2 linked regions of the Homo sapiens genome follow. The protein of the gene in region 2 purifies or fractionates together with the protein of the main gene of each other region. This does not show direct contact. Each region holds a gene or a part of one and is shown on either strand. Other genes may lie near its edges.

Region 1 (3,009 bases), on a different chromosome or scaffold from region 2:
CCTCCCCAGGAAGAGGTTCAGGAAGTTATCAGAAAATTGATATGGTCCAAGTTGATATCACAATGGCACTAAGGAACTGGAGTCCAGTTGACAGATGTCACTCATGTAATTAGTAACAAGGGTTGCTCTGAGTCAGTACCAATAGCCAGCATTAAAGGGCTTCCTTGGCTGCAGAGTAGTAGGACATGGAAACAGTTGTAAGTTGGGGAGGTTCAGAGCCCTGGTGAGTGTCATGGAAGGGAACATCCTACCGGTCCCCTGAGGGCCTGTTTCTCCACTGTAGGGTTCACAAAGCTGAAGGTGAAGATGCTGAAGCGCTGGTGGTGAGAGGGAAATGGAAGATCCAAGGCTTTCTGGACAGGGATCAGCTGGGTCTGATAGTTGTCTCCAATGTAGGGGCAGCTAGACCAAGAGACCCAGCAGTCAGGATGGGCTTCTTTGAGAATTTCAGCACAGGTGTATGAAAGAACCACTTACCCCTTTACCAGGATGGGCCACTGTGGCTGACTCAGGGGGTCAGTGCTGGGTGTTGCCCAACACTGTTGTAGGAGCAGCCCCAGGTAGGGGTCTGTTCTGTGAAGGATGGAGACCTCCACGTAAATGGGATCCCGAAGCAACTTCACCACTGGGTAGTCACCAACACCGTAGTAAGAGCCATAGTTTTTATCTGCAAGAGGCAGAAATAAGGATTTGAAGTAGTAATCTCTCAGTGACTTGAGGGACTGTCACCCCTTTAAATAGCCCCAAGCCCCTTAAGTGTCTTGTTACTAACTTAGGGTCTTCATGCCCCAGAAGACTGGATTTAGACTATAGGCCAGATACTCCAGCCAAGGGGGTCATACCTTTGGCAATCTGAAGTTCCAGAGTGAGGGGTCCAGGCTGGGTCTCAGGAAAGGGTGGTGGGAGAGTGAAAACCTGGACATTGATTGGGAGAGAGTTGCTACTTACTGAGTAGCTGCAGCTGACATGGAGCCTGCAGAGAAACAAGATTTTAGCTAGTTGGTTGTGGGAAGTGGGTGTCAGTTACACATCCTTTCTTTTTAACTCAAGGAAAGCATTAAGTGCTAGACAAGTTTATAAGTGTGATGGATGTGGTTCCTGCCCTGCTGGGAGCTGTATTTTAGTTGGGGAGACCAATATACAAGTAGGACCAATGTTTGAGTTGGAGATAAGCACACAGAAATAAAGATGCATCATGAGAAACAGATGCTTGCCATAGAGAAGATCAGGGAAGACCTTAGAGGTACCCTTGATATGAAGGTGAAAGAAAAACTTGAGGTACAGGGAAAGCGTCACCCAATATAGAGCAAAGCCTGGAGGCAAGGAAGTGCTTGAGGCCCTTTGAGAATTCCATAGAAGAACCAGGCTGCAATCGGGGAATAGTGAGTAAGGGACTGAGAATGTTAGAAGTGAACAGGCTGGAGATGAAGTAGGAGCTGTTTTATGCAGGGTCCTGATGTTCATCTTAAAGATTTTTTTTTTTTGTCCATGGCTTTAAGGTGTGTGATTTGACTGACTTAAGGTTTTAAAGGAATTCTTTTGGCTACAGCATGGACAGTGGAGAAGGCCAGATGTAGAATGGAGAAATGTAGGCTGAAATGTAGAATGGAGAAGGCCAAAATGAGAAAAAAATCTAGTTAAGTGAAATAGCAGAACTCCAGGTGAGCTTGAGGCTTAGGTCGGGTTGGAGACAGCAACACAGATGGACCTAATCAAGTAATGGGCAGTGCAATTGGTGAACCAAGGTAGCAGACAGGTTTTCTCCTATTGCTGAGGAATGCTCATTTGTGGATTCAGGGCTTACCTGAGAATGCCCACCTTATGGCAGATGGGAAGTCATTCTGGCCAAGCCCTTACCTGAAGATGCTGTCACGAGTGACAGAGCCACGGCTCCCATTTTTCACATCCCTAGTTGCCACCAGTTCATTTTCATATACTGCTCGGTCTCCAGTGATCTACAGGAATAGATGGAGAAGTCTTGATCATTTCTGTTAGTGTTATGCTGCTTGACTTGCATCTGGTCTAAGCCCTCAGCAATGCTACCCTGTTGTATGGTATATTTCCTATTACTTCAGCAGAGGTAAGAACACATAGCAGTGACATCCTGGCAAGTTATCACTTCGCCTTATCTCAGGACAAAGGAATAAGAAGGAATTTGAGCACCTAGGAGAGGCAGCTGAAGCACTACCAATTCCAGTCAGCATCCCTGCTGGTTTCTTCTCTATAGCACGGTAAATGACAGCCCCTTAGCTAGATCACAGCTGTGATGGTCTTAGCTGAACACCCAGAAGAGATTAACTTTTTCAGTGATGAGGCATTCTCCTGCCCTAGGGACTCTCCCAAACTCCAAGTAGTAGTCACAAGTATCGTTCACGGCCAACATATTTCAGCTCTCCCCCACTAGTCACTACAACCTTCCCACCCAACTTCCAGAGCCAGGAACAAAGCCCAACTGCTCACCTGTCTTGTGGTGCCACAGGAAGTAAATGGAAACTGGAACAGAACAAAAGCTTGTGTTGCCATCACAGGGTTACACGCACTGTCATTCCTAAGGGCCAAGCGCACAGAATCCAAGAGCAGTGGTGGCGAGGTCACGTTCCGAGACACAGCAATAGAGAAATGGCCCTCTCGGGTACAATGCAAGGTCACTGAAACAGAGCAGCTGTGCTGAAGGCAGGTCATCTCTCCCATTGTGGGGAGAACCAGATGAAAGTCTAACCACTTAGTTACTTTTAATCCCACTGAGAAGCTGGTGACAACTTCCCAGTGACAACCTCAGTGCAAGATCAACCAACCACAGTTTAACCCAGGCTCTAAATGATCTGGGGTTGAGTCTTGCCTCCCTGACTTATTGTGTGACCTCAGGCAAGTATTGCACCTCCTTGCTTCAGTTTCATGTGTTAAGAGGGGGATAGTAGTTCCTACCTCATTTTGCTTGTCAGTTAAGATTAAGATCTTGGAATAGCGTGTGCGATTATTAGGTTGGTAGAGAAGTAATTGCAGCCTTTG
Region 2 (3,500 bases):
GATGCATCTATTGATAACCAGACTCAGGTATCTGGAGCCAGGTTAAAGCATCCCAGCCTACAACCAGCCTCTCTAATACTACCTACAGCCAATGGACCAGGTGAGCCACCATCCTCAGGGGTCAGGCCCAGAGACTGAAGTCAGACTTCCACGGTCACAGGACAGCTTCAGTCCCTCATGCCGACTGGGCAGCCTGCCCTTGACTCCTCTATCCTCCTCCATCTCCCCTACCCACATAGGCACCAAGCTCCTCCAACTGCTCTTAGCTCCTGCGAGTCAGCCTCTACGGTCCCTGCAACCATGGGTCAGGCCTCATTGAATCCCAGTTTTCCAGCCTCCCAGCTGGTTCTCACTAGTTCCCATTTGTCTTCAGCACCAGCCACCAGGTGACCCTGGGTGGAGATTCAGTCCTCACCCATTCCAGGAGGGGCACCTGTGGTGAGGCTGGTGAGCCCATCTGTCTGGCTCCCTCATTACCCCAGTCCCTGGGCTCCAGCCCCCAGGCTGCATGTCACCTACTAAGGGCACACTACCCTCCCGTTGGGTGTGTGGCCACATGGCTCTGCCCAGGCCATCTCAGCCTCAAGGTCCCCCACTCCAGGATCCTGTTCTAGGATAACCCCTACCATGACCCCTCCCAGGGGCATGGCTCATCCCTCATGATGTCCTGACTGGTATCAGCTCCCTACCCACTTCACACTAGCATTTTCTTTTTGAGATGGAGTCTTGCTCTGTTGCCCAGGCTGGAGTGCAATGGTGCCATCTCAGCTCACTGCAACCTCTGCATCCTGGGTTCAAATGATTCTCCTGCCTCAGCCTCCTGAGTAGCTGAGATTACAGGCACGCGCTACCACACTCGGCTAATTTTTTTGTGTTTTTAGTAGAGATGGGTTTCACCATGTTGGCCAGGCTGGTCCTGAACTCCTTACCTCGTGAGCTGCCCACCTTGGCCTCCCAAAGGGCTGGTATTACAGGCGTGAGCCACCATACCTGGCCGCATCATCTTATACCCACTCCCAGACTGGTTCAAGGGCAGGGACAAAGTCCCCTGCACCCCATGCTGAGGCCAGCACAGGACCCAGTGTTGTCCTTGGGAGCCATAGTTTCTCCTCCCACTTCAGGGCCTGAGTTCACAGGCACGTGCTTGATGCCAGGGGCTTGAGGACCACAGAAGAGTAGGCCACCACCGCCCAGGTCAGATTCTAGAACGCAGCCTAGCACTATTTTATTATTATTTTTTGCGATGGAGTATCGCTTTGTTGCCCAGAATGGAGTACAGCAGTGCAATCTCGGCTCACTGCAGCCTCTGCCTCCTGGGTTCAAGCAATTCTCCTGCCTCAGCCTCCCAAGTAGCTGGGATTATAGACACCCGGCTAATTTCTGTGTTTTTAGTAGAGATGGGGTTTCACCATGTAGGCCAGACTGGTCTTGAACTCCTTGACCTCAAGCGATCCACCTGTCAGCCTCCCAAAGTGCTAGGATTACAGGATGAGCCACTGCACCTGGCCCCAGCCTAGCACTATTGGAAGGCCATTTCTGAACCCTAAGGGCCGAGGCTGGCATAGTACCACCACCAGGGCTGAGCAGCTCTGAAGCTTCCGCTAAGCTGCAGTTGGGCTCCTGATACTCTTCTGGGGCTCGAACTAGACTCAGCAGGCCCCACAATCCCACGCAGTACAGTAACCACAGCTGCAAATGCTTCGGTAGGTAGTTCTAATAGCCATGCTGCAAGCTGTAGCCCATAGCCAGCCCACTTGCCTGCAGCCACACCCAAGGGGCTTTTGCACCAGGGGCCATGAGTCAGTCCCACACCGACCTGGGGTAGCGGCACTCGATGGGAATCTCTGCGCGGTTAGTCCTCACGATGGACAGGTTTCCCACGGGGCGGGGGTCATGGAGCAGGAAGGTGCTGTACACCAGGGCATCGTCAGTTACCTGGAGGAAAGGTGAGAAGTTAATGCTGCCGGCCATCACCTGCCCGGGTACTCCCAAGCCATACCTGAGTGCTCAGGGAGGGCAGCCCACAAGGGGACAGAAAGACCACAGGGTCAAGGCCAGGTGCAGTGACTCATGCCTGTAACCCCAGCACTTTGGGAGGCCAAGGATTGCTTGAGGCCAGGAGTTTGAGACTGGCCTGGGAAACATAGCAAGACCCCATCTCTACAAAAGAGAACACAGGCTCTGCCACTGGTCAGGAAAGAGGCAGGACAGGTACTGTCTTTGTACCTCGGAATCTTTACCTGACACCACATATTGACACCACCACAGGCAGACTGGATCAACCACATGGCAGATACCATGTAACACCCAAGCAATAGAGGCATCAGGGCACATGACACATCCCTTCTGACACTCCCCCTCCATGCCCCCCAGTACATACAGTTTCCTCTTTCAGGAGAGGCCCAGGGCCAAGATAGCCGCCAGGAAGCAGTCAGGAAGTGCCCAGCTGTTAACACTTATCAGCTTCTGGCTGGGCGCTGTGGCTCACGCCCGTAATCCCAGCACTTTGGGAGGCTGAGGAGGGCAGATCATCTGAGGTCAGGAGTTTGAGACCAGCCTGACCAACATGGTGAAACCCCATCTCTACTTAAAAAAAAAAAATTAGCTGAGTGTGGTGGCACGTGCCTGTAATCCCAGCTACTCGGGAGACTGAGGCAGAAGAATCGCTTGAACCCGGGAGGCAGAGGTTGCAGTGAGCGGAGATCGTGCCATTGCATTCTAGCCTGGGCAACAAGAGCAAAACTCTCAAAAACAAAAACAAACAAAAAACACAACAACCCACATCAGCTTCTAACCTATTCAAGCCCATTTCACATAAGGTGGGGGAGACTGATTCAGAGGTTGCCTGAGGCAGGAAGAGCACAGGTGAGTACTACTGGGGAAATTTGCATCGTCCAATAGGGCTGCAGAAGGCAGGGCCTGCCTGGGAGAGAGTTTTATAGCAAACACCTAAGTTCGAAGATTTTGCTAGAATATTAGAAAAATGTGACGCTAGGCCCTACCCCAGTAGAGTGAAGGTATGAGATTCTCTTGAGAATCAGTATTTTTACAACCTTTCCAGGTGATTAGCATAGAGCCAGCACTGGAAACCCCTACTTTAGTCACTTCCTAACCACCTTTTGTTTTTTTGAGATGCAGTCTTGCTCTGTCACCCAGGCTGGAGTGCAGTGGCACGAACTCGGCTCACTGCAACCTCCGCCTCCCAGGTTCAAGCAATTCTCTGCTTCAGCCTCTGAGTAGCTGGAATTACAGGCACGTGCCACCGTGCCTTTTTTTTTTTTTTTTAAATAGAGACAGGGTTTCGCCATGTTAGCCAGGCTGGTCTCGAACTCCTGGCCTCAGGTGATCCACCTGCCTCAGCCTCCCAAAGTGCTGGATTACAGGTGTGAGCCACCATGACTCAACCCCCAACCACCTATTCTAAGCTCACTATCCCCACCTCTCATCTCAGGGAGCTTATTTAAAAACTACTTGAGGGCTGGGTGCAGTGGCTCATGCCT

What was found. The genes of interacting proteins can lie anywhere in the genome.
Region 1: the proteins of ZP3 (region 2) and ZP4 purify together in Homo sapiens (co-immunoprecipitation; one study listed by IntAct). This does not show direct contact.

What each region holds. Positions count from the first base shown.
Region 1 is NC_000001.11:237,884,914-237,887,922, forward strand, and holds part of ZP4 (zona pellucida sperm-binding protein 4 preproprotein), read right to left. Parts: intron 2,649-3,009; coding exon 2,461-2,648; intron 1,956-2,460; coding exon 1,858-1,955; intron 974-1,857; coding exon 843-973; intron 668-842; coding exon 478-667; intron 403-477; coding exon 252-402; intron 1-251. UniProt on the Homo sapiens protein: Component of the zona pellucida, an extracellular matrix surrounding oocytes which mediates sperm binding, induction of the acrosome reaction and prevents post-fertilization polyspermy.
Region 2 is NC_000007.14:76,427,950-76,431,449, reverse strand, and holds part of ZP3 (zona pellucida sperm-binding protein 3 isoform 1 precursor), read right to left. Parts: intron 1,936-3,500; coding exon 1,817-1,935; intron 1-1,816. UniProt on the Homo sapiens protein: Component of the zona pellucida, an extracellular matrix surrounding oocytes which mediates sperm binding, induction of the acrosome reaction and prevents post-fertilization polyspermy.